Linked DNA regions of Homo sapiens. The protein of the gene in region 3 interacts with the protein of the main gene of each other region in a biochemical or structural test. Each region holds a gene or a part of one and is shown on either strand. Other genes may lie near its edges.

Region 1 (7,260 bases), on a different chromosome or scaffold from region 3:
AAAAAAAAAAAAAAGAAAATGAAACTGGGTATTTCGTGCAGGTATTTAACAGGAGCTACTGAGGCTAGTCCAGCAGGCAGCAGACAGCACAGAGGGGACACTCACAGTCGGGGCCGCTCAGACAGCATGGAGGGGACACTCACAGTCAGGGCAGCATCCGTTAAATGCCATCCTGCAGATGCCACAGTTCTCATCGTTGGCCACCCAGAGCCAAGTGGCCACGCCGTTCCAGCACTTAATCTTCACCTTCATGGCAGCAGAGCCTGCGGCGGAGGGAACAGGACGACTGGCTAAATTGAGTCTGCAGAGCTAGAACGTTTAGGCACCAACACAGGTATAAGCCTGCCACAGTGCAGTCCCAGCTACTCAGGGGGCCAAGGCAGGAAGATCATACCGGCCCAGGAGTCCGAACCCAGCCTGGGAAACATCGTGAGCCCTGTTTCTATTTTATTTTACTTTTATTTTTATTAATTTTTTTTTTTTGAGACAGAGTCTCACTCTGTCACCCAGGCTGTAGTGCAGTGGCATGATCTCAGCTCATTTCTTGTGCTTCGGCCTCCTGAGTAGCTGAGGCTATAGGCACGTGACTCCACGCCCGACTAATTTTTGTATTTTTAGTAGTCGAGGTTTCACCATGTAGGCCAGGCTGGTCTTGAACTCCTGGCCTCAAGCGATCTGCCACTGCGGCCTCCCAAAGTGCTGGGATTACAGGCGTGAACCCCTATGCCCTGCTATGAGCCCCGTTTCTATTAAAACAAATAACAAGTAAAGGGCTCTGGGCCCAGAGGGTCAGGGCTGCAGGGGAGCTACGGGAGAACAGCAAGCCCCAGCAGCAATCCGCTTTGTGGCTCACACCTGTGATCCCAGCACTCTGGGAGGCCAACTCGGGAGGATCGCCTGAGCTCAGGAGTTTGAGACCAGCCTGTGTAACACAGTGAGACTGAGTCTCTACCAAAAAAAAAAAAAAAAAAAAAGGAAAAAAAAGAACTATCTGTGAGGTTTCTTTAGCCATCTAGAGAAAGGGCACACTCTTCTCTCCAAGGGAAGGGACTCAGCTCCTTACGGACAAGGAGATCACATTTGGGAGCACAGGACAGTCAGGAGTTTGGTTTTACCTCACGTTGAGGATATCTTCAAAGATCTCAAATGGGCCTGGCCAACATGACGAAACTCCGTCTCTACAAAAAATACAAAAAAATTAGCCGCAGGTGGTGGCTCATGCTTGTAATCCCAGCACTTTGGGAGGCCGAGGAGGGTGGATCACTTGAGGTCAGGAGTTCGAGACCAACCTGGCCAACATGGTGAAACCCCATCTCTACCAAAAAAACAAAAATTAGAGGCCAGGCGTAGTGGCTCACGCCTGTAATCCCAGCACTTTGGGAGGCTGAGGCAGGCAGATCACAAGGTCAGGAGTTCAAGACCAGCCTGGCCAACATACTGAAACCCTGTCTCTACTAAAAATACAAAAAATTAGCCGGGTGTGGTGGTGGGCAACTGTAATCCCAGCTACTCGGGAGGGTGAGGCAAGAGAATCACTTGAACCTGGGAGGCGGAGGTTGCAGCGAGCTGAGATCACGCCAGCTCCCAGCTCTATTCGGGAAGCTGAGCCACAGGAATCACTTGGACCTGGGAGGCAGAGATTGCAGTGAGCCGAGATCGCACCACTGCACTCCAGCCTGGGCAACATAGTGGGACTGTCTCAAAAAAAAAAAAAAAAGCCAGCTGTGGTGGCGTGCACCAGCTGCCTGAGAGGCTGACGTGGGAGGATAGCTCGAGCCCAGGAGTTTGAGGCTGCAGTGAGCCAAGATCACACCACTGCACTCCACTCTGGGTGACGGAGGGAGACCCTGACTCAAAAAACAAAAACAAAAGCAAGTATCTCAAAACAACTTAAAATCCATGAAATGGGCTGGGTGTGGTGGCTCATGCCTGTAATCCCAGCACTTTGGGAGGCCAAGGCGGGCGGATCATCTGAGGTCAGGAGTTCAAGACCACCCTGGCCAACATGGCGAAACCCTGTCTCTATTAAAAATACAAACATTAGCCAGGTATGGTGGCACGTGCCTGTAGTCCCAGCTACTCGGGAGGCTGCCGCTGGAGACTCGCTTGAACCCAGGAGGCAGAGGTTGCAGTGAGCCGAGATCGCCCCACTGCACTCCAGCCTGGGCGACAGAATGAGACTGCCTCAAAAAAAAAAAAAAAAAATCAATGAAATGGCACACTGGTTTTCATTAATAAGTTGCAAAAATAATTTTTTTTTGGAGACAGGGTCTGGCTCTGTCGCCCAGGCTGGAGTGCAGTGGTGCCACCACGGCTCACTGCAGCCTCGACCTCCTGGGCTCAAGCAATCCTCCCACCTCGGCCTCCCAAGTAGCTGGTAGTACAGAAGTGCACCACCATGCCCAGCTCATTTTTTTTTTTAGAGATGGGGGTCTCACGATGTTGCCCCGGCTGGTCTCAAACTCCTGGGCTGAAGCGAACCTCTTGCCTCGGCCTCCCAAAGTGCTGGGATTACAGGCGTGAGGCCCGCGCCCGGCCCGCAAGAAAACTTGTAAAGGATATGACTGGCAAAATGTGACAGTGCAGACTTGGGGGGGCTGCAGGTGGAGACCAAAAAACCAACCCGCAGCTCGTCTGCAGCGGCTGCCGCCCGCCGAAGCCGCGCCCGCCGGACCCCACCGCGAGCCGAGCGCACAGTCCTGGGCGGGAGCGGAAACAAGGACTCCCAGCAGCTCCCAGGCACCCGCCGCGCCCGTAGCGCCCCCAGCGCCCCCAGCCCTGGCCGATCGGGCGGAGCGTGCGGGGAGGGAGGGGCGCGTAGGCTCCGCCTCCAACGGCCGCCGCCCCACCCCCTGCGCCCTCGCACCTTCGCCAACCTAATCACGCACCGCCCTACCCGCCCTTCCGTTGGCAGCGCCGGCGTCCGCGCGGGAAGGTATAAAAACGACCACAGTCGCGGCCCGACTCCCTCAACAGCGCCCGCCGAGTCTCGCACGCCAGTGCGCACGCGCCTCCCCGCCTCACCCCGTCCCGCGCGCGCAGCCGTCCGCCAGCGGCCAATCAGCAGCCGCTCCGAGGCCGTGGCACCGGAAGGCCTCACGCGGCGCCGGAAGTGACGTGCCGGCGTGCTGACGCGCGGGCTCGAGCCGATGCCCGATTCCGCGCCCGCCATGGCCGACAAAATGGACATGTCTCTGGACGACATCATTAAACTGAACCGGAGCCAGCGAGGCGGCCGGGGCGGGGGCCGGGGCCGCGGCCGGGCCGGCTCCCAGGGCGGCCGCGGCGGTGGGGCGCAGGCCGCCGCGCGAGTGAATCGAGGCGGCGGGCCCATCCGGAACCGGCCGGCCATCGCCCGCGGCGCGGCCGGCGGAGGCGGCAGGAACCGACCGGCGCCCTACAGCAGGGTGAGTGCGGAGGCCGGCCGCGCCGGAGAGTGGGAGGGGGCCAGCCGGGGCTGGGGCCGGGGCCGCTCGCGGCGGAGACCCGGGCCGGCGGGTGGATAAGGCTGGTGGAGCGGCCGCCCGGAGGTCCGGAGGGTGCGTGTGGGCGCGGAGGGGGTGGTGGGCGGGAGCGAGGTCGTTCTTTCGGGGTCCGGTCCCGGAGGCTGAGACCCTTCCCAGCTCTTTGTTTGTTCCGGACGTTGGGGCCTCGTGGCAGGAGAGGAGGGGACGCTGGGCGCGGCACAGGCGGCGGGAAGTTAGTCTAAGGGAACTGAAGTTGTGCGGCCGCGGTGGGACCGTGCGGCCTCGGGCTGGGGCAGCTGCAGCGCCGGAGGGAGCGCTGGCGGCCCCGTTTCGGCCGGATCCTCTCAGGCCGGGAAGAGGAAGGGTCCGGAGTAGCCGTGAGGGTCAGGAAAGCCCTGGACTGAGACTCACAGATCTGCTCTTGTTGCGGTTTTTTTTTCAGCCAAAACAACTTCCCGACAAGTGGCAGCACGATCTTTTCGACAGTGGCTTCGGCGGTGGTGCCGGCGTGGAGACAGGTGGGAAACTGCTGGTGTCCAATCTGGATTTTGGAGTCTCAGACGCCGATATTCAGGTAAGAGACGAGGGCTTCTCGGTGAGCCGTTCGCCCTGCACAGGACGGATCGTGATTTTGGGGATGTGGCCCTGAGTCCCCTTCCCGCCTTAGCGAAGGGAGCCCTCCCAGCTCTGAAGGGCTGCAGGACAGACCCAGTGCTAGTAAAGCCGGGGTCAGTGCGCAGGCAGGTGCGAGCCTAGCTGAGCCTGAGGAACTGCTGCTGTTAGTCTGAAGATGGGTTCTGTGAGTGAAAATCCCCTGCCAGGGCTTCCAGTTTCTAACAGGGACAAAGACTGACCAAATGTGAGTGGTTTTTGGCTGTTAGACCCAGCCCAGTTGCTTTTTAAATTTTGTGCCTGTCTTAGTGGGTTAATGTGAGAAAAAGAATCTTCTTTATGTATCTTGTGAAGCACAGGGAGTCTGTTTTTCTGGCTCTGTTTGCCTTGAGTACTGTCTTATAAAGACCTTGTACGCTGTGGTTTTATCACTCCCCACCGCCGTGTCCCGTCAGTGACATGACTCTCAAATCCATCTTTGGTTGAAGCTTTTCTTTTTTAAAAAAAGAAAAATTGAATCCCAATGGCATTTCAACTTGTTTTCTGGTTAAGAAATGACTTTTTGGGAATCAGTTTTGGAGATGGCTGGGCAGGGTTCAGTTGCCCACAGCCCAGCCATTTGCCTTGGGAGGACAGAGTAGGGCCAGTGAGCACTCACAGTGTCTCAACACTTTTTTTAAGGTGGTTTCTAGCATCCACTGGAAACCGCTTTTGGTGAACTCCAGTTCCCGCTGTGTGCCTGCGGCCGGAGTATCCCCACACTCTGGGTTCCCTCTCCAACTCCCAGCCTGCCTGAGGTCAGGGCAGTTTCCATGACAGCGCTTGACTTCAGACTTTGCCGCAGGCTTGAGTAGGAGGAGAGGGAAAGGTGAGCCAGAATCTGCCTTTGGGGGAGGGGCTGGGGTCAGGGCTCCCGAATCTACAGGCCCTTCAAGCTGGTCTGATATCGGACTGCTTCCCTTGCTCTTGATTTTGGCCTTTACCGTTTCTTGGAACAGCCCTTGGGTGTGTTGTACATTTTCCTTTGTTGAAGAGGATAGTGGCTTAATTTTGTGCCCGTTGCTAGTGGGCTTTGCAGCTTCCTCTACCTGCATCGTGGTACACGTGTCAGGTCCCCACAATGGCAGGAGCCCTCAGACCCAGGTGCTCTTGGAAGTTGCTGTCCCTCCTGCCCCGCCCTTCCCTCATTTCCCGTTAACCACTGTCCTGCCTCCCAGAGAACCACCCCCAAAGCAACTCACGCTTCCAGGGCCTGTCCCTGGGCCACCAGAAGGAACGCAGTTTTGTTGCTTTTCTGACAACTGCTCTCTGCAACTCCCAGGAACTCTTTGCTGAATTTGGAACGCTGAAGAAGGCGGCTGTGCACTATGATCGCTCTGGTCGCAGCTTAGGAACAGCAGACGTGCACTTTGAGCGGAAGGCAGATGCCCTGAAGGCCATGAAGCAGTACAACGGCGTCCCTCTGGATGGTGAGTCTGGGGGTGGACCCACGCTGACTGTGGGGCTTGTGGAGTTTGGGGCTGGCACCTGTCCAGGTAGGAATATGGGGTACCCCTGTGGCTGAGGACACTTTGCATTTGCCCCTTTGTCTCTCTCTTCCATCTGCCACCTCTCATGCTGCCCCACACATCTGGACCAACCTCTTGTGAACCCCCATCCAGCAAGCTACATCCCTCCCCTCCTTCAGCTCCTTCCGGAAGATTCACTTCTGTGAAGCCTTCTCAGAACCGCCATAGTACACCTCTGAGTGCGGGGCTGTAGTCGTAAAGACAAAGGTACCGGTTCTTCTTCGTCAGGTCACCCACACCTCTCCACCCACGAGCACCCCGATACCTCAGCGAGCAGCCCACCTAGTCTGGACTGAGAAGGAGTGAGGAGGTGTTGGTGGGGTTGCTTCCTTGCCATTTTGTTCTCCCACCAGTATCTCCAGGCCATTTCCCTTGTCGGGGGCATTTGAGACGCACAGAGGCCCTTTCCAGTGTTTGCATGGAGACCAGGGTGTGGCGCCAGCTGGGTGGGTTTCAGAGCCTCTCAATAGAACGTGCCTTCTCGTATTCTTTGCCGCAGGCCGCCCCATGAACATTCAGCTTGTCACGTCACAGATTGACGCACAGCGGAGGCCTGCACAGAGGTGACTTCCGGGGCCTCTGGGGAAGGGGATTGGCCGAGGGTGAGGCTGCGTCGCTCTTAGGGTCCTTCCGGGTGTGTGAACGGTTTCGTCTTCCTTGCTAGCGTAAACAGAGGTGGCATGACTAGAAACCGTGGCGCTGGAGGTTTTGGTGGTGGTGGAGGCACCCGGAGAGGCACCCGCGGAGGCGCCCGTGGAAGAGGCAGAGGTGCCGGCAGGAATTCAAAGCAGCAGCTTTCGGCAGAGGAGCTGGATGCCCAGCTGGACGCCTATAATGCGAGAGTGAGTCCCGGGGGAGCCAGCTGGGGGCCTGGTCAAAGCCGCAGTGGGGAGCAGGCCGCCTGTGAATGCAAGCCTCTTTCTCCTCTGTGTTTCAGATGGACACCAGTTAAACAGACCAGCAAATCCGCGTGCGGAACAGGACCCAGGCGTCTCCTCTTGCTCCCTGGTTGGGGGGCGGTGGCTGGGGCTGTGCGGCCAATGATGGATTTGTTTCTTTTATGTTTTAAAATAGGATTTAAAAACTCATGTAAAGGTTTTTTTTTTTTCTTTTTTTTTTTTTTTAATTCTGAAACAGACCTGTTTTGTACCGAGTTATTTTTGGGATAAATTTTACTGGTTGCTGTTGTGGAGAAGGTGGCGTTTCCACCTTTTCCATAATAAAATAGAAATGTGTGTAGAACTGGAACTGTTTGATTCGTCCCACTGTTGGAGTCCAGGCCTGGGCCAGGATTTTGGTGTCTGTCCAGCTGGGAGGGGGTGGGAGAACCTGAGTTGGGGATGGAGGGAGCAGCCCCATCTGGTGTTGGACACCTGAAGTTGGCATGGGTTGTGGGGGTGGCGGGGGGTCCCCGCTCCTGGAGGGCCGAAGCTGCCTGTCTTCTTTCTTATCTTCTTTCCTGCCTCACACCTAACACCTTCCTCTCTAACTCACCAGGTGGGAGGACACCTTTGCCCGGGAGCCACCTGTTGACCCTTGTGCCTGTGCCTCCAGGTGAGGGGAGGTTGGGGTGGGATGGCTGCCCTGTGTGCCGTCCACAGGCTTCCCACAGC
Region 2 (7,021 bases), on a different chromosome or scaffold from region 3:
ATCAGAGTAATGCTTGGCTTCATAAAATGAGTTTGGAAGTATTCCCCCCTCCTCCCTCCTTACTCCCTCTTCCCTCCCTCTTCTTCCTTCTTCCTCCTCCTCCCTTTTCTTTCTTCTTCCTCCTTCTTTCCTCCTCCTCCTCCTCTTCCTTCTTCTCCTCCTCTTCCTTTCTTCTTCTTTCTTCTTCTTGATAGAACTGTGCTATGAGGTCATCTGTTCCTGGGCTTTTTCTTTGTCAGAAGAGTTATGACTACTGATTCAATCTCCTTACTAGTTATAAGTCTTTTCAGATCTTCTATTTCTTCTTTATTTTAGTCTTGATAAATTACAAGTTTCTAGGAATGCATCCATTTCTTCTAGGTTATACAGTTTTTTGGTGAATAATTGTTCATGGTAGTCTCTTATGGTCATTTGCGTTTCTGTGTTATCAATGGTAACATCTCTTGGTTTTGATTTTATTTATTTTCGTCTTCCTTTTTACTAGTCAAACTAAAGCTTTGTTGATTTTACTTATCTTTTCAAAATCCAGCTCTTAGTTTTAGTGGTCTTTTCTATTGTTTTTGTAGTCTCTATTTCATGAGATTTTGTTATTTCCTTCTGCTAACTTTTTCTAGTTCCTTTAGATGTAAAATTACGGTGTTTATTTAAGATTTTTTTTAAATATAGGCGATTATTGCTATAAACTTTCCTTTTAGAACTGCATTTGTTCTATACATTTTGCTATGTCGCATTTCAATTTTAATATTTCTTGTGATTTTTTAAAATTTTCTTTTTGATTTCTTCTTTGACCCATTGATTATTCAGGAGTATTTTGTTCAATTTCCACATAGTTGTCAGCTTTCCAACTTTCATTCTGTTATTGATTTCTGGTTACATACCATTGTGGTCTGAAAAGATACTTGATAGGATTTCAGTCTTCCTCAGTTTGTTGAGTCTTGTTTTGTGACCTGCTGCATGATCTACGCTGGATAATTTTTCTTGTGTGCTTAAGAAGAATGTGTATTATCTGCTGTTTGATGGAATGTTCTGTATAAAGGTTGAGTATCCCCAATCCAAAAATCCAAAATCCAAAATGTTCCAAAATTTAAAACTTTTTGAGTACCAACATGATGCTGAAAGGAAATGCTCTTTGGAACATTTTTGGTTTTGCATTTTTGGATTAGGGATGCTCAGCTGGTAAACATAAGGCAGGTATTCCCAAATCTAAAAAATGTAAAATTCAAAACACTTCTAGTCCCAAGCATTTCAGATAAGGAATATTCAACCTGTATGTTAGATCCATTAGATCCAGTGTATAGTTGAAGTCCAATATTTCCTTACTGATTTTCTGTCTGGATGACCCATCCATTATTGAAAGTAGGATTTTTGAAGTCTTCTAGTATTATTGTGTTACTATCTATTAATGTCTTCAGATCTGTTAATATTTTCTCTGTTTATTTAGGTGGTCTGATGTTGGGTACATATATATATTTACAGATACTGTATCCTCTTGTGGAATTGGCCCCTTTCTCATTATATAATTACTTTCTCTGACTCTTTTTACAGTTTTTGATGTAAAGTCTGCCCTATCTGATAAAACTTTAGCTTCCTCTGCTCTCTTTTGGTTTCCATTTGCATGGAATATCTTTTTTCCTATACCCATGCATGTGCTTAAAGGTGAATTGAGTCTCTTGTAGACAACCTGTAGCTGAATCTTGTTTTCTTTATCCATTCAGCTGCTCTTTATCTTTTGATAGGAGAATTTGGCCCATTTACATTCAAGGTAACTATTGATGGGTAAAGACTTCTGTCATTTTGTAATTGTTTTCTGATTGTTTGGCAGATTATTTGTTTCTTCCTCTCTTGCTGTCTTCCCTTGTGTTTAGATGATTTTCTGTGGTGGTATGCTTTGATTCCTTTATATCTTTTGTGCATCTACTATTGGTTTCTACTTTGTGGCTATCATGAGGTTTACATAGAACATCTTATAGTTATAGTAGTCTGTTTCAAGCACTAACAACTTAATTTCAATTGCATTAAAAAACTGTACTGTTACTCAGACCCTCCTGCACATATTTTATGTTTTTGATGTCATTATTTGCATTTTATATTGTGTATTCATGAAAAAATTATTGAAGCTATAGTTATTTTTAATACTTTTTTTTAAAAACCTGTATTTTAGAATTAAGTAATTTACACATGACCATTACAAATTTAGTATATTATTAATTTGATTATATATTTATCTTAACAGTGAGTTTCATACTTTCATATGTTTCCATGTTGCTAATTAGTGTCCTTTCATTTCAGCTTGGAGAACTCTTCAGCGTTTCTTGTAAGGCGCGTCCAGTGGTGATAAACTCCCTCAGCTTTTGTTTGTCTGGGACTGTTTATATCTCTTTCATTTCTGAAGGACAGCTTTGCTGGGATACATATTCTTGTCTGGTAGTTTTGTCTTTCAGCACTTTGAATATATCATCCAACTCTCTCCTGGCCTACAAGGTTTTTGCAGAGAAATCCACTTGTGGTCTTATAGGGTTTCTCTTGTAGAAGATGAGTTTCTTTTCTGTTACAGTTTTAAAATTCTCTTTCATCTTCTATTTTTGCCAGTTCATTATAATGTGTGTCAGTGAAGTCTTCTTTGGGTTGAATCTTTATGGGGTCCTATGAACTTCCTGTACCTGGATATCTTTCCCTAGATTTATGAAGTTTTCAGCATTTTTTTTTTAAATCAGCTTTCTGTCCTTTCTCTCTTTTCCTTCTTGAATTCTCGGGTTTGTTTTTCATTTTCTTGGGTTTTTTTTTTTGATGGTGTCTTGTTCTGTCACCCAGGCTGGAGTGCAGTGGCATGATCTCAGCTCACTGCAACCTCCACCTCCCAGGTTCAAGTGATTCTCCTGCCTCAGCCTCCCACGTAGCTGGGACTACAGGTGTGCACCACCATGCCCAGCTAATTTTTGTATTTTTAGTAGAGACGGGGTTTTGCCATGTTGGCCAGGCTGGTCTTGAACCCCTGACTTCATGTGATCCACCCGCCTCAACCTCCCAAAGTGCTGGATTACAGGTGTGAGCCATCGTGCCTGGCCTTGAATTCTTAAAATGCAAATATTGTTTTGCTTGATGGTGTCCTATAATTCAGGTAGGCTTTCTCCACTATTCTTTTTTTTTTCTTTTTTTCTCCTCTGACTAGATAATTTCACATGATCTGCCTTTGAGTTCACAGGTTCTTCTGCTTGATCAGGTCTGCTATTGATGCTCTCTATTGCATTTTTTGTTGTTATGTTCTTCAGCTCCCGAATTTGTTTCTTTTTATTATTCCTATCTCTGTGTTGAATTTCTCATTTGTTTGTATATATTTTTTTATTTCATTATCTGTGTTCTTTTGTAGCTCACTGAGTTTGCTTGAAACAATTATTTTGAATTCTTTATCTGTTAGTTCATAGATCTCCATTTCTTTGTGGGTGATTACTGGAAAATTACTGAGTTTCTTTGCTAATGTCACGTTTCTTTTTTTTTTTTTCTTTCTGTTTCTTGTGGCCTTGTGTTATCTGTGTATTTGATGGACGAATTACTTCTAGACATTACAGATTAGTGTGTTTTTTTTGTTTTTTTTTTTGTGGGCAAAGATCTTTGCCTGTGGGTGAGGGTGAGGGTGAGGGCGCCAGCCAGTAGGTGTGGTGGTTCTGGCTCTGTGGAAGGCCCAGCATTGTGAACTCCATGCAGCTCCATTAGCCCAGATCATTGTCAGTGAGGATTGCAGGGGTCCTCAACATCCAAGGCTGCAGGTATCCATACCAGCAGCAAGGCTTTTTTTAGTCTATAGTGGCAGAGGCTGCTGGGGACCTCTTCATCACTTTTTCTCCCATGGGAGACATTGTGGCCAAGGGGATTCTTCTTGGCACAGGTTCTGGCTTTGGGCTTGTTGTGTTGGTGGAGGTGGCAGCACTGATGTCTCTGATGGCGTGGACACCTGTGGAGCAGCTACAGAGCCAAGGTTTGGAGTGCAAGTGTTTGCAGAAAGACAGCGGGTCTTGGGTTCAGGATGTTGACTAGCCTGCAGCAGTGGTGCTTCTAGTGCCTCAGATGTGGGTGCACGTAGAGCAGCCTTTGAGTTGGGTGCGGAGTGCAGGTGTGCAGAGCAGCCAGAGAGCTGGGATCTGGAGAGTGTGTGATTAGAGCAGCCACAGAGCAAAGGTCTTACATGAAGGTACATGTGAAGCAGCTGTGGCTCTGGGGTCTGGGGCATATGTGGGGGTTAGGGGCTGCACTGTCTGGGCAGTGCAAGAGCTGCTTTTTTTCAGGGTGAGGAGTGCAGTAGTGTCTCCCTCTCCAGGGGGTTCACAGCAGCAATGGGTGCTGGTTACCTTAATGGTGAAAGCTGTCAGTGTCCTCTGCAAAGTAGGCTACTGGGGTTGGCATCAATGAACACTATAGGGTCCTTCACTGTGAAACCTGCAGGAAGTCTGTGGCTATCTTGAGGGTTATTGGAGGTCTCCAGGGACCTGCTCTGGGGAGGAGCCTAGCAGTCTTTGCCACTGAGGACTGTAATGGCACTCACCACATGACTGATACAGGTAGCCCTCACCCCTTGTTCTTAGCCATCTCCAGATGTCTCTGCTAAGCAGATCTCCCAGCAGTCCTTTCTGTGTGGTTATTCTCCCTTTTTTTTTTTTTTCCCTTTATTGCTGTAGGCTGATTGGGCTAGTGAGTTCTTCCAGAGCTGTATTTGTGTATAGCTGTCTGTTTGTTGTTTTTTGTGGGTGGAAGAAGGCTGATGTCTCCTAGTCTGCTGTCTTGCTGATGTCACTCTTGCAAACTTTCAGTCTGCGGCTTTTCATTTCTTTAACATTGTCTTTTGAAGAGCAGATGTTTTCAATTTTGATGATGTCAATTTATCAATTTTATCTTTTGTGGAATATGTTTTTGGTCTTTTGTCTAATAATTCTTTACCCAATGTAAAGACAAATAAAGACAAGGCTTTTTCCTAGAAGTTTTATTGTTTTTGGTTTTATATTTAGGTATATGATCCATTTTTACTATTTTTGCATATAATATGGGCATAGGTCAGTGTTCCTTTTTTTTAACATATGAATATTCTGTTGTATAGTATCATTTATTGAAGAAACAAAAGGAATAGAATAGATATAGATGGTATGTGAACTTCTTGGAACATCTTTGAGAAGCCCTATCAGTTTAAAAACAAATATTTGAGAAACACTGTCATATTATATATAGATAAAAATATTTGATTCCATATTTTTTGGAGGGAAGGTAGTGGATTCTGGCTCAAATGTAATGGAAGAGTGAACATTGAAGAAAAATGAGCAGTTATTGTATTGTGAAAGATCACATTTTAGGAATACTGAGTTAATAGTATCTGAAACTGTTAAGTAGTTCACTTTAAGCACAAAATAGATTGTGTATAATAGTGTTCTTCAGGAGTCAACTTGTTCCCCTTTGTAGGTGCAGACGCTTTTCTTTTTGTTGTTGTGTTAATGGATTGAATTAGAAAATACCGTGATATATAACACACAGAAGGATGTATATTGTTTTATGATAATTTTGTTCCTGTTAGATATGTATGTGTTCTGGGTTGTGACGTAAAATGTTTTTACTATGGAGTACAATGAAAGATTTGAAAGCCATTTTTCTAGAATGATCAGGTTATATTTGATATGAAACAATTTTAAAAAATAATTTTCCTCATATGTTTTAGGTGTGAGTTCTTGATACGAATGAAAGGCCAAGAGTTTGTTGATGAGATTCAAGGTAGATATCCTCATCTTCTTGAACAGGTAAATACATTTTTAAAATTAACAACATTGAATTCTGCTTTATAATAACAAAAATATTATTAGGTTGGTATAAAAGTGATCATGATTTTTGCCATTGAAAGTCATGGCCAAAACCGTGATCACTTTTGTACCAACCTATATTAGAAGTTATGCTTATTTCTCTTTTATTAATTGTAGGTACATACTTTCATCCATGTTAATGACATCTTTGGTTTTTACTTTTGTAACCAACTTGATTTTTGAGGGCTTTTTAAAAAAGATTGTTTTTTTGTTTTTACTATTTTGAAAAATCATTTATGCTGCCACTGTACAAATTTGTGATGGGATTGGAGAAGGATCTTTAGTGTCTCTTTGCTGTTTTCCAGAAAAACAAACAAAAAATAACTTGTTAGGAGCTGAGACCCTTGGAGAGTAACCCAGTTAAAATCTTATTTTCCAAATGAAATGAGAAACCACTGATACATTTTTCTACTTTCCTGAAACTAGAGAAATACTTGATTTCTAATTTGGGATGACATGAAATTTAAGGAAATCTATGTGATTAGGGTAAAAGAAAGCAAAGCAAAGGTCATAAATCACTCAGTTCTCAAAAGAACATATACATTTACTTAAAGTAAGCTTATTTTAGTGTTGTTCTTTTCAGATTGTTGGGGATATCTGCTTTTACCTATTAACTTTTCTCTTGTTTCATAGCTGTTGTCAACTTCAGATACCACTGGAGAAGAAAATGCTGACCCACCAAGTATGTATGAGATAATTTTAAGTATAGAGTGTAAATTTTTATAAGAATTTTAGGAATAGGCTGGGTGCAGTGGCTCATGCCTGTAATCCCAACACTTTGAGAGGCCGAGGTTGACAGATCACCTGAGGTCAGGAGTTCGAGACCAGCCTGGCCAACATAGTAAAACTCCATCTACTAAAAATACAAAACTTAGCCGGGTGTGATGTGCCTGTAGTCTCAGCTACTCGGGAGGCTGAGGCAGGAGAATTGCTTGAACCCAGGAGGTGGAGGTTGCAGTGAACTGAGATTATGCCATTGCACTCCATCCTGGGCAACAGAGCGAAACTCCATCTCCAAAAAAAAAGGTAGGAATGAAAGTATGTATTTTTTAAAAGAGTTTCTGAAGCCATAGGGAAAAATACTGGGAAGTCAGCTAATAAATATTATATATATATATATATATATATATATATATATATACACACACACACAGAGAGAGAGAGAGAGAGAGAGAGAGAGAGTGTAA
Region 3 (7,702 bases):
GGATGCTACAGATAGTATTAGGTTGCTGCAAAAGTAATGGCAGTTTTGCCCATTAACCTAATAAAAGGAAAAATAAAAGGATATTATGAGTAACTTTATTCTAATAAATTGGACAACATAAATGAACAAATTCCTTGAAAAACACAAATTATCACAATTGACACAAGAAGAAAAAGAAAATCTGAATAGTTCCATACTTTTTTTTTTTTTTTCTGCAACATAGTCTTGCTTTGTCGCCCAGGCTGGAGTGCAGTGGCGCAATCTCGTCTCACTGCAACCTCTGCCTCCCGGGTTCAAGCAATTCTCCTGCCTCAGCCTCCTGAGTAGCTGGGATTACAGGCGCTCACCACCATGCCCAGCTAATTTTTGTATTTTTAGTAGAGACGGGGTTTCATCATGTTGGCCAGGCTGGTCTTGAACTCCTGACCTTGTGATCTGCCTGCCTCGGCCTCCCAAAGTGCTGGGATTACAGGTATGAGTCACTGTGCCCAGCCAACTTTTATTTCTTTTTTGAGACTGAGTTTTGCTCTTGTTGCCCAGGCTGGAGTGCAATGGTGCAATCTCGACTCACTGCAACCTCCGCCTCCCGGGTTCAAGTGATTCTCCTGCCTCAGCCTCCCAAGTAGCTGGGATTAAAGGCAGCACCACCACGCCTGGCTAATTTTGTATTTTTTTTTAGTAGAGACATGTTTCACCATGTTGGCCAGGTCAGTCTTGAACTCCTGACCTCAGGTGATTCACCAGCCTCGGCTTCCCCAAGTGCTGAACCTTGATATGAAAATTTGGTGAAGATATTACAAAAAAAGAAAATTATAAATCAATATCCCAGCTGGACGCAATGGCTCACACCTGCAATCCCAGCAGTTTGGGAGGCCGAGGCGGGCAGATCATCTGAGGTCTGGAGTTCGAGACCAGCCTGGCCTACATGGTGAAACCCTGTCTCTACTAAAAAATACAAAAATTAGCCAGGCGTTGTGGTGCACACCTGTATCCCAGCTACTTGGGAGGCTAAGGCAGGAGAATCACTTGAACCCGGAGACGGAGACTGCAGTGAGCCGAGATCGCACCACTGCACTCCAGGCTCGGCAATAGAGTGAGAGTCTGTCTCAATAAATAAATAAACAAACAAACCAATATCCCTCATGAACACAGATGCAAAAATCTGCATATCTGTTAATGCTGCAGTTTCATTTCTAGGAGTTTATCCTAAGGCACTCTTAGAGCTGTATAAAGATTAAGAGTCTGTTTATCAAGAAGAGTCATATGATTTTTTTTAAAAAAAGATCCTGTTTCTACAAAAAATAAATAAAAATTAGCCAGGCATGGTGGCTCCAGCTTATAGTTCCAGCTACTCAGCGGGCTGAAGTGGGAAGATCACTTGAGCCAGGAGTTGGAGGCTGACGTGTACCACTGCACTCCAGCCTGAGGGAGAGACAGTGACCCCATCTCAAGAAAAAAAAAGAAAAAAGATGAACTATAGGATAGCTAGGATATTTACCACAGCATTATTTTAATAGTAAAAATGGGAAACAAATGTTCCCCAAAATGTGACCAGTTAAATAAATATGGTACATTTATATGCTAGAATACAAAGCCATTAAAATAAGGTAGAAATATTTGAAACAGGAAAATTCACGATATATTGTTTATTTTCTTATTTGTTTTTTGAGACAGAGTCTTGCTCTGTTGCCCAGACTGGAGTGCAGTGGCGCGATCTCAGCTCACTGCAAGCTCTGCTTCCCGGGTTCACGCCATTCTCCTGCCTCAGCCTCCTGAGTAGCTGGGACTACAGGCGCCCGCCAACCAAGCCCGGCTAATTTTTTGTATTTTTGGTAGAGACGGGGTTTCACCGTGTTAGCCTGGATGGTCTTGATCTCCTGACCTCGTGATCCGCCCGCCTCGGCCTCCCAAAGTGTTGGGATTACAGGCGTGAGCCACCGCGCCCAGCCAATATATTGTTTATTTTCAAGGTAGATTACCAAACAGTATTATGCAATGACCCCACATTTTTCAAAGAAAAATATGTATTGATATTTATATGTAAGGGAAAAAAAGACTAGAAGGACATTAACCAAATGTCAAAAGTGGTTAATTATTGGATGATGAGAGTGTGGGTGACTTTTATTTCCTTCCTTTACTTATAGGTATGTCTTACAACAAATACATATTGCTTTTTTTTTAAGAGAGGATCTTGCTCTTTCACCACACCTGAGGTGCAGTGGAACCACCACGGCTCACTGCAGTTTTGACCACCCAGGCTCAAGCTATCCTCCCCACCTCAGCCTCCCAAGTAGCTGGGACCACAGGTGCGTGCTACCATACCTGGCTAATTTTTACAATCTTCTGTAGAGATGAAGTCTCTATATTGCCCAGGCTGGTCTGGAACTCCTGAGTTCAAGTGATCTTCCCGCCTCAGCTTCCCAAATTACTGAGATTACAGGCGTGTCCAGGAGCTTTTCTAATACAAAAGTTATTACTGAGAATAACTTTAAAAAAAAAATCTGTCGGCCGGGCGCGGTGGCTCACGCCTGTAATCCCAGCACTTTGGGAGGCCGAGGCGGGCGGATCACGAGGTCAGGAGATTGAGACCATCCTGGATAACAAGGTGAAATCCCGTTTCTACTAAAAATACAAAAAAATTACCCGGGCGTGCTTGCAGGTGCCTGTAGTCCCAGCTACTCGGGAGGCTGAGGCGGGAGAATGGCCTGAACCCGGGAGAAGAGCTTGCAGTGAGCCGAGATAGCGTCACCGCACTCCAGCCTGGGCGACAGAGTGAGACTCCGTCTCAAAAAAAAAAAAAAAGAAATCTGTCCAGTGGAGATTTTTGTACCCCTCCCATCACATTTCTTAGGAAGAAAATATCTGGGGCTGTGAGATGTTCCATTTTACCCTCAACCTCAACTATACCCACCCTGAACCACTGGATACAATTTTCTCTCACTGGGTGCACGGTGCTTCTGTCCTAATGGTCCAACCTTCTCAGTAGGTGAGGCAGTATGAGCTTTGCCACTCACCTACTGTGTGGCTTTTGGCAAGATCCTTCCCTTAGTTGGGCTCCAGTTTTTTCTTCTCTATAAATTCAGGAGCTAGAATCAATGATCTGCAAGGTCCTTTCTGGATGTAGCGAAAAGGAGACATTTAGAATCAGAAAACGCCAGGGGTAGATTTCAGAATGTGGGCATTACCTCCCAGCAAAATATTCTTTACTATTCTCCTGTGTAAGGCCTCTAGCCCTGGCTTGGCTCCGTATCTCACACCAGTCATGGTGTAGGGCTGGGCACAGGGTAGGTGCTCAGTGATTTAGCTTTTTGTCTCCATCTCCTAAAAAACAATTCCAAATATTCTAGGTTTGATTTTCAGCGGACCCTCCTGATGGGTATCTGGAGCACGAGGTTGGTTTTTTTTTTTTTTTTGGAGATGGAGTTTTGCTCGTCGCCCAGGCTGGAGTGCAATGGCGTGCTCTCGGCTCACTGCAACCTCTGCCTCCTGGGTTCCAGCGATTCTCCTGCCTCAGCCTCCCCAGTAGCTGGGTTTACAGGAACCTGCCACCACTCTCGGCTATTTTTTTTTTTTTTTTTTGAGACGCATTCTTGCTGTTGCCTAGGCTGGAGTGAACTGGCGTGATCTCGGCTCACGGCAACCTCCGCCTCCCGGATTCAAGCGATTCTCCTGCCTCAGCCTCCCGAGTAGCTGGGACTACAGGCGCCTGCCACCATGCCCGGGTAATTTTTGTATATTTAGTACAGAAGGGGTTTCACTGTGTTGGCCAGGCTGGTCTCGAATTCCTGACCTCGTGATCCGCCTGCCTTGGCCTCCCAAAGTGCTGGGATTACAGGCGTGAGTGACCGTGCCCGGCCTAATTTTTGTATTTTTAGTAGAGATGGGGTTTCACCATGTTGGCCAGGCTGGTCTCGAACTCTTGACCTCAGGTGATGCGCCAGCCTCAGCCTCCCAAAGTGCTGAGATTACAGGGGTGAGTCACCGCGCCCAGCCGTTGGTTTTAACTATTTGGGGCACACACTGTGATTTTTTTTCTGACGCAGCTGGTACAGTGCTTGCTTGTAACAATTTGCAATTCACTAAGCTGAGCAGAGTCTGGACACCTCGAAGGCACACATACATGCCAGTGGCTGAGAACACAACATTCAAATCCTCTCCATCTGGGGCCTTGGTCCGGAAGGCCAATCTCACTGCAACCCGAGCGGCTATGAGACATCTCCCTCGTGGCAGGTGCCCGAGCTGTAGCCACGCGGCCTCTGGAAAGAGATGTGCTAAGTCCCAGGACTTCAGAAGAGCTCTGTGACCTTGGCCAAGTCCCTTCCTCCTTCAGGAGCGCTGCAGTGGGCCTAAGTGCCTCCTCCCGGGACTAGTACGGGGACGGTCGTGAGATCTGGACAACATTCGCCTTTTAATATTTATTGATCTTTTGTGACACGCGCGTGGGTTTCCATCAGCAATGAAGTCAACGGTCGCGGCGCTGGAGCCTGCAGAACTCGCGCTCTAGATCTCGCGAGATCTCCGCCCAGGGCTTCGCAGCGTCACGCCCTCCGGGGCCGTGGCGGCGACGGCGGTGCGTAGCTTACTCACAGGGGCGGCCCGTATCCCTCCGCCGCCGGCGCGGCTCGGCCCTCCCTCCCCTGGCCCGCCAATCCCCGCGCCTCCCGACCTGCCCCTCGGTCGGGCCCACCCCGTGCTCCGACGGCCCCACCCCGGCGGCGCAGCCCGCCCGCCCGCGCGTCCCTCGGTCCACCTGCAGCAGGGAGGAAGACAGGCAATCCCTCCGGCTGTCCGACCAAGAGAGGCCGGCCGAGCCCGAGGCTTGGGCTTTTGCTTTCTGGCGGAGGGATCTGCGGCGGTTTAGGAGGCGGCGCTGATCCTGGGAGGAAGAGGCAGCTACGGCGGCGGCGGCGGTGGCGGCTAGGGCGGCGGCGAATAAAGGGGCCGCCGCCGGGTGATGCGGTGACCGCTGCGGCAGGCCCAGGAGCTGAGTGGGCCCCGGCCCTCAGCCCGTCCCGCCGGACCCGCTTTCCTCAACTCTCCATCTTCTCCTGCCGACCGAGATCGCCGAGGCGGCCTCAGGCTCCCTAGCCCCTTCCCCGTCCCTTCCCCGCCCCCGTCCCCGCCCCGGGGGCCGCCGCCACCCGCCTCCCACCATGGCTCTGAAGAGAATCCACAAGGTAAGCGGCCGGAGGTCGGCTGCGCTGCTGGCCAGCTGAGCAGGCTGCGGCCTGCACTTCCCGCCGTAGTCTCCGTCGGGCTCGCGGCCTCCTTGGATCTTGCTGCCGGTGCTGGCCCCTCGGGGCGGCCTCCATACCCCACTCCCAGTGATGGCGCCCGTGGAGGCCCCGGCGCGCAGCCCGCGCTTAGGCCGGAGGTGCTCTCGCGGCCTCAGCGTTCCTCCCCGGCTGCCCTTCCAGGCCCGCATGGTGTGGACTCTTAGGGCTTCTCTCCAGTCTGGGACTGCCGCTGCACTTGAGGGCCATTGTCGGGCCAGGATGGCGGGGTTGGGGCCGAGGGGGGCGCTGGGGCGTTGGGCGGCCCCTTCGACAGAGGTCGAAAGGGCTTCTCGCCCCATTTCTGTTCCCTCCTCCCACACCTGCCCTAGCTCCCTCCACAAAACCGCCTGAGCTCGGGCTGACAGAGGAAGCCGTTTTGCCCGATCCACAAGTATATCCTGAGTTCACTTACCTCTTGGGTGGCAGCACACATCGGTCCACCCTGCTTGTCCAGAAACTGTTAAGAGTTGGAAGTTCAGAAGAAAAAAAAAAGGTGACTTAATGAGGGAGGAGGGAAGTAGAGGGAGAATCATTTTATTCCTTGAGGTTGCTGTATGTAGTTAGAAACTAACACTTCCGTTTTGCAGGATTGGATCTAATAGAAAAGCTGTACATTGGCAAAGGTAGAGGTAGAAACCTGAACATTGAAAACCACCAGAGAAATTATACAAAAGTTCCTTTCACAGCCTCTTCGCAAAATGGACTTGACGCTATTAGGTGATATGTTTACCGAGACTCTTAACTGGGAAGGGGTTTTACTAGATTTTGTATTAAAAAGGATTTCTTTGCTCTTTAAAGTGAAGGGTTATTTAGTTATCAATAAGGAGGTTTTCCTAATAATACATCTAGACTATAAGATTGGCTTAAAATTTATTTTTTTTCCCTTTCTGATGTTGTAACCTCTTAGTGCCACTTTCATGTTTTTTTTCTTAGAAGTAGGGAGGCACCACTATTAATTTCTGTTTGGTGTTTCACTTGGCTACTCAGATTGGCTATATTAAACCGGTAGCTACTTTTTTCTTCAATACATCTTTTTCCTTTTAGTGGAGAACGGGGTCTTGCCGTGTTGTCCAGGCTGGTGTGGAACTCCTGGGCTCAAGCTAGCCTCCTGTCTCTGCCTCCCTTAAGTGTTGGAATTACAGGCATCAATCAGCCACTGCACACGGCCTATACCTGTAGCTACTTAGAAGTAGGTACTGGGGTTATCCATTCTGAATGATGGGATGGGGATGCAAGAGGAAGAGAACCAGTTTTTAGCTTGTCTTAAACTAAGTCAGAATACAGATTGATGATTTAAACACCTCAGCTCAGCGGTTGGTCCTCATTTCATTTTTGCTCAAAGACAGTGTGGAATCAGTCCCATTGGTTACTATAATTAGGTTAGCTCCTTAACTTCTTTTGACTCTGATTTCTAACAAATGAAGAAGGGCAGATTTTAGACAATAAATCTTGTACTAAAATGAAATGGTATTTGTTAAATACCATAAAGAAGCTTGAACCTTAAGCAAAGATGTCTTAAAGAACCGTTTAAGGGGCAGGGGAGCACACTGAGGAGTAGTCATCCAAAAAAAATATATACATATGTATTTTAAAGGCTTTTAGGAATTGCTAGGTCCTTATAGAATCTAACTGGGAAGTTATCAAATACCTGTAGAAGCTTGTCCTCTTATTTTATAACCTGAGAAAGAGCAAGTGGGTATAATGTGTAATAATTTACAGATAAAGAAATGTAGACCTGCCGGGCGCGGTGGCTCACGCCTGTAATCCCAGCACTTTGGGAGGCTGAGGTGGGTGGATCACGAGATCAGGAGATCGAGGCCATCCTGGCTAACACGGTGAAACCCCGTCTCTGCTAAAATATACAAAAAAAACTAGCCGGGCTTGGTGGCGGGTTCCTGTAGTCCCAGCTACTCTGGAGGCTGAGGCAGGAGAATGACGTGAACCGGGGAGGCGGAGCTTGCAGTGAGCCGAGATCGCGCCACTGCACTCCAGCCTGGGCCACAGGCGAGACTCCCTTTCAAAAAAAAAAGAAATGTAGACTTTAATCTCTACATTGAATTATATGTGTAACGGACTTTTTCAGAGAGGGAACTATCTCTTTGACACAAAACATACGTTTTAATTAATAATACTTGCTCTGGTAATATAGTTTCTTATGAGTTGCTACATATTTTCTAGAATAGATTTTCCTTAAAATATGCCTTTGTAAGATTTTTTTAATAAAATCAAGTTTAGAAATAATTTGAACTTTTTTGGGGGATAGAGTTTCAGTCTTGTCGCCCAGGCTGGAATGCAATGGCACGATCTCAGCTCACCGCAACCTCCACCTCCTGGGTTCAAGTGATTTTTCTGCTTCAGCCTCCCGAGTAGCTGGGATTACAGGCACGCACCACCACACCTGTCTAATTTTTGTGTTTTTAGTAGAA
Region 4 (7,237 bases), on a different chromosome or scaffold from region 3:
AATTTTCCTTTGTTTTACAGAATGAGTTTATAGACTCTTGTTCTCTGTAACTAGTGATTTCAAGTATTCTGTTTTATCTAAGTAGTACAACGAAGGTCATAAAAAGCCTGAGTAGGCCTGAACTACAGCTGCCTGGGCACCACAGAGAAGGTTATAGGATAAGCCTGTGCCCAGGCAAACCTAGAAAACGAACATCTGGGTTGCTTGGCAATGGTCATCTGCAATCCTGTCTTTGTCCTGCCTCTGTATCCCTGCTTTCACGCCACTGTAAGCTTGCTTCAAGCTAGCCCACCTCCGTTTGTGAAGTGTGTATAAAAGTCAAGTACTGTCTTTATTCTGGGCCCAGTCTTTTGGATGTGAGTCAGCTGGGCCTGAGTACACTCAATAAAGATTCTCCTGCTTCAACCTGAGGTCTCCCTCATACTCCCGAATCCCGCAACAAGGTGAGTGTAATAGTTAGAGAAAGCATAGGCCTGAAAGGAGCAAGCTTTGAGAAGCACTCTTACCTTTAACAGAAAATCCCAGATACATACTATTTACATTTTAGTGATCACTGGATAAAGTCTATAATGTCTTTCCTGGCTCTGAATTTTTGTCACAAAAACACAAAACCCATCACTCCAAGGCTTCCTTTTAATGGTTTTCACTTTCACCTACCTTTAGCACTGTTCACGACACCCAAATCCCAAACTGACCATTCAGATGTTTACTGAAATGTGGCTAATGAGGCTGGGCGTGGTGGTTCATGCCTGTAATCCCAGCACTTTCAGAGGCGAATGCGGGAGGATTGCTTGAGCCCAGGAGTTTGAGACCAGCCTGGGCAACATTATGAAACTCCATCTCTACAAAAACTATAACAAAAAATTGGCAGGCATGGTGGCACACACCTGTAGTCACAGCTACTCAGGAGGCTGAGATGGGAGGATCACTTGAGCCCAGGAGTTGGAGGCTGCAGTGAGCTGTGATGGTGCCACTGCACTCCGGCCTGGGTGACAGAGACAGAACCTGTCTCAAAAAGAGGAAAAAAAAAAAAAAAAGACGTGTGTCTAATTTCAGAATTAGGCAATGCAACTAGTTGAATATTTTATTGCACATTGTCCATGATCTTATATGTAAGGCACATTTCCTAGGGAAAGCAGGCATGGATTTAATCATTTATGTTGTACTGCACACTTATTTGCACTATGTAAAACCATGGCTGGAGTGAGAGAAATAACACTTTTAAAAACCAACCTTATATTCTCCATGTCATTACCAGTAATTGATAACTGTTTAATCATCAACTCCAAAGATATTTCTTCCTTATTGGAAGAATTCCAGATAAAACTAAACAGAACTGTCCAAACACATTTCATCCTAATAAAGTTATTTATATAATCACTTATTAGGTCATAACTTATAACTGAGTAATGTTCTTTAGATCTTAAGTGCTTGTCTTTATATAGCTTTACAATAAATTTGTTTCTCTTAAAATTATCTGTGCACTAGATTAAGTTAAATTAAAATAAAATGTATTTAACTGTCTTCAAAATAAGGTATAGGCTATTTTCTTCCTGTAGACTGACAGCACAGATATTGGAAAATCTCTTCTACTTGGTTTTCTGATTCAGTTCAAACTTGTGCTTGCAAGTGAATCTTACGTAAATGTCACCTAAAAAGAGCTCAAGAAGACTCATAAAAAATATTTTTTTCGTAATTTGATTAACTTTCAAGTCATTCACCAAAAGTCAGACCATGCTAGAAAGGGAAGAAAAGTTGGACAACATTCTTGTTTTACCACAAAGACCATGCCAGTTAGCTGGCTTGATTCTCCCACTGATGGGGAGAATGTTTACATTTTAACAATAACTTCACAAATAAACAGATGTAAGAAGTGTTTTCAGTGCATAAAGATCATATACTTTATAAATCCACCTCTCATCTTTCTTCTGGACAGACCACATCTGACTTCGAACGTACTTACTGCAATCAAAAGTGTTTTGTAAAGGACCCTCCTCAGGAATAAACAAGCTCACTAAACCCTCCATACATAACCTGGAGAAACCTCCACAATAATGAAACCCCATCTAGCACTGTTTTTCAAACATATGGTGCATTTCCATTAATTTTCAGGGATAGCCCCTAAAGTAACTTTTGGCTCAACAACCCTGGAAGAGAGGACCTTTGCTCATCTTACACATCAAGTGTTCATGAACAACTCTGATGCCACTAAGTTTCGTTCACAAACTTGCACCTCGGTCGTTCTTTTACAAAAAAAAAAAAGAAAGGTTATTTTGCAAAAGGCAATAGATTTAATCTTGGCTACTATTTACTCTTAATGTTTCTTTCATCTCAGCCCTCCAATGAGAAGTTTAAAAGGAAACATCCGAGGGAGCAAGTTTAGATCTATCTGGAGGAGTTTCTGTGGAGCCAGCCACCCTCACCAGGTGCCTTCCATTAGAGTTTAATGCTTTGCTGCGGTTTCCTGAAAGAGCCCCACAGAGAGTGGGTCTCGATGGGTCCTGAACCGCACCACAACCGGCCAGTGAGGTGAGGGGCGAAGGTGAGGGGCGGCGGCGGGGCGAAGGTGAGGGGCGGCGGCGGGGAGAAGGCTTCGGGACCCCACACGGTCCGGGGGACCGCGAACGAGGAGCGGGGGTGCGGGGCCGCCTGGCGTCCCCGTCGAGGCGGTCTTCATGAGAACGCTCAGAGCAGGGGCGGGCAGGCGAGGGCTTCGAACGCACACACTGGGGCCCCGGACCCGCGTCGCTGAGCTGGGGAGCCCGGCGGCGCGGGCCGGGGACGGCACGGGCACTTTGGCCCCGTCATTGACAGTTGGCACCGGGGGTCCTGGTCGGCCGAGGCGGGGCGTGGCGCCATACCGGGGCGTGGGGCGGCGCAGAGAGGCTGTACCTGGCAGGTACCCACGTACCTATCATGGTCACTGGGTAGGTGGCGGCTGCGGGCCAGGAACAGGCCCATGCGCGCAGCGGCGCCAGCCGCGCCTCCCACCAGCGGCTCTCCTGGGTTAAATCCTCCAGGCCTCCCCGCCCCCGCGCCCGGCCCTAGGAATGCGCACGCGCGGAGGGCGCGGCCCAGGGCCTGCTGGGAGTCGTAGTTCTAACGCGTAGTTTCTCCTCACGCCTCCTGCCCCCAGCCCCCCACCGCCGCCCTTTCCGGCTTCAGGCCCAGCAATCTTACGTCACCGGGGGGCGGGGCTATGCGCCCGCCGTGTTGACCAGTCGCTTAGCAACCGGGAGGCTTACCTTTGGAAGCTTGTTGCAGCTCTAGCCAAGGTCCTGCCCTCTTCCCGCCCCGCCCCTAGGGTCCAGCTCCCTTCACCTAGGAGCTGCCAAACATCTGGATCAACCTGGGCACTACGAGGGGTTGAATTTCTACCATTATCGCGCCTTTTGATATTTTTTTCCAGACCTCCTGCTCACATCCGTAAAGCCCACTGATTCTTTTACTACACTTTTTATGAGAACAAGACATTTTCTAGGAAGATGGTGGCAGAAAAAGAGACCCTGAGCTTAAACAAATGCCCAGACAAGATGCCGAAGAGGACCAAGCTGCTGGCACAACAGCCGCTCCCGGTGCACCAGCCTCACTCTCTGGTTTCTGAGGGTTTCACAGTCAAAGCCATGATGAAAAACTCAGTCGTAAGTGATCTTCCTGAATTAAATGCACTCGCTCTGAATCAGGGGACACGAGATTTACAGAGGTTGGCCAGCCTTAGGATGGACTCTGAGCCATGTCCTGGGTGGTCTTTGCCAAAAAAGGCAGTTACTTGGCAAGTAGCAAACGGTGCCCCACAGTGTGTGGGGGGCAGGCTAGGTTGTTAGAATCTTGGGCAAGTGATGTACTCTGCCCATTTATAAGCACCTTCCTGATAACTTATGGTTTCTGGACCGCCCAAAATTACTCTTAAGCTATTTACACGAGGAAAAAAGATCCCCTTTACTTACTAATTCCTAACTAGCCCCACTCAGCAAAGGGCCTTATAGAAGGTGAGTTCTTAGAAATCATAAACTCTTGCAAAATTTAACATGAGCTGATATACAACCGGGAACATAAACTCATGAAATAATCTATAATGAGAAATTTCTTCACTTCAACCTAGGAAATTTTAGAATATCCTAGCATTTGCTCTAACAACACTTGTCTCTTACAAAATGATGTCATCTTCTTAGAGTACTGAAAGCCAACTTAATATGAACACTGTTTCCTGACAGGCCTTTTAAGATGATGTGCTTTAAACAATACAAGCTTTAGCTCATATATCTCTGCTACTAATACAATTCATATTTCATCTCTATTATTTGTAGTAATAAAAATAAAATATTCTAAGTATCATTAGAGAAAAAAGATTAAAAATATATACAAATATTTTAGCTGTCTGCATGATAGTATATATTTTTTAAACCTTCCTATTTGTTAAATAGCTTTACACTTGGTATGCTAAGACAGATTTTGCTACTGAGTAAGCAACTGTCTGGGAATGAGGCATTAAATAATAAATGCATCTTTCAAATTTGTGTAATTTACACCCTGGGAAGATCTGAGTTATTACATGGCAATTCATTATGTTAAATGAATAGTGTTGTTTTCCAGTGTCACATTATTTCCTTTGCTTATAGGTTGCAAACCTGATAACTTATTCCTAAACGACATACTTAAAATACATGAATGAAACAGATTACCTATAGACCTCTAGGCCAGGTTCCCATGTGGCTATGCAAAACGATATCCTAATTATTGGGAAGTGTGTCAGGTGATTTACAGTAGTTAAAATTCTTGGAAATGGACTAAAATTCTGCTTGTTGTAACTAATTCTTTTTCATGGAATTTCACATAAATTGGTTCTCCTAGGAGTCAAGATGATGCATTTATCAGCAATACCATAACCATTCAGGTTAATCATTTAGTTTTTCTTCTACACAATATTTACAATTTTGATGTTTTTTAATGTTATACTTTAATTTTTTTTTTACTGGTTGGGGTTCTTTTCTGTTTTTTCCTAAACCTGTATTCATAATTCTTGTATCATATTAATTCTTTAATATAATCTTACACCTAAAGAGATAGTTCTGCAAAATCTGATGTTTCTGTATTGCCAAATGTAATAAGTATGCCTACATGACTTAAAAAAAACATTGATTATGAAGCAGGCTTCTTTATAAACAACTTAATTGAGATCCATTATCTTCTCTTTTTATGTTCTAAAGGAAAATCTTGTACTAGCAATACCTCTCTTGCCATTGGAAATCGTAATTCTTAAATGCAAACATTATTTATCCATTCATCTATTTATTCAGTCAACAACTGTCTCTCTTTTTTTTTTTTTTAATACCCAGTGTTTGCTAAGCACAGTTCTGGGGATTTGGGATCAGCAAAGCAAAGTCCCTGCCCTTAGTACTCCGAGGAAAACCAAAATAACAACATTCAAATCTTGATAAAAGAAGGCTGGACAATACCGTTTATACAAAATAACTTCAGTGGTACAGGAAATAAAAATTTTCAATTTCATAACCAATATTTACATTTCACCATTTTTATCTTTAGCAGTATAGACTTCTCAGCATTATAAGGTGAAAATGTCCTCATCTCTTTCTGAAGGTGTATTTTGATTCAGGACGTGTATGCCAATTTCCAGCTTTTCTTAATTGCAACCTCATGCTCCAAGAGCCAACACCCTCCAAACCACTTTTCCAGTTAGATAAGTCAACATTCCAATGCTCTTCCACCTAAAACATGAAGAACTGTATATATCATAAGGAGTTATACAGAGACTCCTGATATTTCTCTGAGTGCGATAGTGATACAAGTACATAAACTTGATAATAAATATGTTTCATCAAATGGGCTGTGCAAGCAGAAATGCTTATTTAAACAATCTGGATATGAGAGTGCAAGATTATTGAAAAAATAATGATAAATGTAAATGGCAAAATTTTTAAAATCTCAATGTCAAATATTTTTCTTCAATAGAAACTAGACTTTCTTTCCATGAAATTTTTGTTGCATTCTATAAGAAAACAAGCATCACAAAAGCCCTGCAATGAAATAATATTCAAATTCACATTTTTATAGTGCTTGCCTATAAAGAGATATGAGATACACAACTTGAAGATTTCATAGTTCATTTTCCTTTAAAAGTCTTGTTTGGGGTGTGATAGAGCCCATGACCAGAAACTAGTAACCCAGTATTTTGTTGTCTTTATCTTGTCAGATACTTTCTGTGCTGAACAAGCTTATCACGAAGCAAGTTAGAAAATCGACCCAGGGTTATGGTGACAGAGAAGTTGAGTTCAGCCTAAGCTTTCTATTACAGCTTTCCTTCTCAAAAGACTATAGATGCTTTATGCTCAAAGTTTAGGGGAATGGAATAAATAATTTTTTTAATATTAAAGGTTGAGTATTCCTATTCCAAAAGTCTGAAACCTGAAGTGGTCCAAAATACAAAACTTTTTGAGTGTTGACATTACACTCAAAGAAAACTCTTTTGAGCATTTTGGATTTCAGATTTTCAGAACTGGCGTGACCATCAGTATATAATACAGATATAGTCAGCTCTTTGTACAGATTCTGCCTCCATGGATTCAACTAACCTTGGATTGAAATGTTTGGGATAAAAATTTTATCTGTATTGAACATGTACAGACTTTTTTTTTTGAGTCATTATTCCCTAAACAATAGAGCATAGCAACTATTTATGGAGCATTTATATTGTTTTAGATATTATAAGTAATATAGACATGATTTAAAGTATATAGGTAGAAATGTGTAGGTTACATACAAATACTACGCCATGTTATATCAGGGACTTGAGCATCTGAAGATTTTGGTATCTGCAGGAGGTCCTGGAAACAATTCCTCATGGAGACTGAGGGATGACTGTATTCCAAATTTGAACAAAAAACAAAAACAAATCCAAAACACTTCTGGTCCCAAGCATTTCAGATAAGGGATAGTTCAACCTATACTTTACATGTATAGTGTGTTTTATATTTACCAATCATGTGCTCATTTAACACGTAGTGGTAATCATCAATATTTATAAATTATATATTAAAATATTAATTTGGCTTCTGTAACACTGACCAAATAACAATAGCTTAATTAAGATGGAAGTTGTTTCTCTCATAATAGAAGTTCAATTTTGTAGGCAATCCCAGGAGGTTGGGCAGCATTCCCCATGAGGCAGGTGCAGGGGCATAGGAGCATGTTTGTTCTTTGCATCCTGTAAAATGACACC

The links.
Region 1: the proteins of UBE2D2 (region 3) and ANAPC11 form a complex in vitro, tested with the Homo sapiens proteins (11 studies listed by BioGRID).
Region 2: the proteins of UBE2D2 (region 3) and BIRC2 form a complex in vitro, tested with the Homo sapiens proteins (9 studies listed by BioGRID, with this or other methods).
Region 4: the proteins of UBE2D2 (region 3) and PRKN form a complex in vitro, tested with the Homo sapiens proteins (8 studies listed by BioGRID).

Annotation. Positions count from the first base shown.
Region 1 is NC_000017.11:81,887,470-81,894,729, reverse strand, and holds the start of ANAPC11 (anaphase-promoting complex subunit 11), read right to left. Parts: upstream 3,008-7,260; 5' UTR 2,889-3,007; exon of another isoform or gene 2,867-2,888; intron 2,804-2,866; exon of another isoform or gene 2,624-2,803; intron 1,627-2,623; exon of another isoform or gene 1,543-1,626; intron 1,179-1,542; 5' UTR 1,116-1,178; intron 264-1,115; 5' UTR 253-263; coding exon 144-252; intron 1-143. Other genes in the region: ALYREF (THO complex subunit 4), read left to right, coding at 3,150-3,407, 3,910-4,041, 5,401-5,548, 6,147-6,210, 6,312-6,489, 6,585-6,599. UniProt on the Homo sapiens protein: Together with the cullin protein ANAPC2, constitutes the catalytic component of the anaphase promoting complex/cyclosome (APC/C), a cell cycle-regulated E3 ubiquitin ligase that controls progression through mitosis and the G1 phase of the cell cycle.
Region 2 is NC_000011.10:102,357,201-102,364,221, forward strand, and holds part of BIRC2 (baculoviral IAP repeat-containing protein 2), read left to right. Parts: intron 1-5,695; coding exon 5,696-5,774; intron 5,775-6,467; coding exon 6,468-6,516; intron 6,517-7,021. UniProt on the Homo sapiens protein: Multi-functional protein which regulates not only caspases and apoptosis, but also modulates inflammatory signaling and immunity, mitogenic kinase signaling, and cell proliferation, as well as cell invasion and metastasis.
Region 3 is NC_000005.10:139,556,639-139,564,340, forward strand, and holds the start of UBE2D2 (ubiquitin-conjugating enzyme E2 D2), read left to right. Parts: upstream 1-4,700; 5' UTR 4,701-5,153; coding exon 5,154-5,177; intron 5,178-5,605; exon of another isoform or gene 5,606-5,769; intron 5,770-7,702.
Region 4 is NC_000006.12:162,724,751-162,731,987, forward strand, and holds the start of PRKN (E3 ubiquitin-protein ligase parkin), read right to left. Parts: upstream 3,017-7,237; 5' UTR 2,919-3,016; coding exon 2,912-2,918; exon of another isoform or gene 2,792-2,911; intron 2,543-2,791; exon of another isoform or gene 2,382-2,542; intron 1-2,381. Other genes in the region: PACRG (parkin coregulated gene protein), read left to right, coding at 3,486-3,641. UniProt on the Homo sapiens protein: Functions within a multiprotein E3 ubiquitin ligase complex, catalyzing the covalent attachment of ubiquitin moieties onto substrate proteins. Substrates include SYT11 and VDAC1.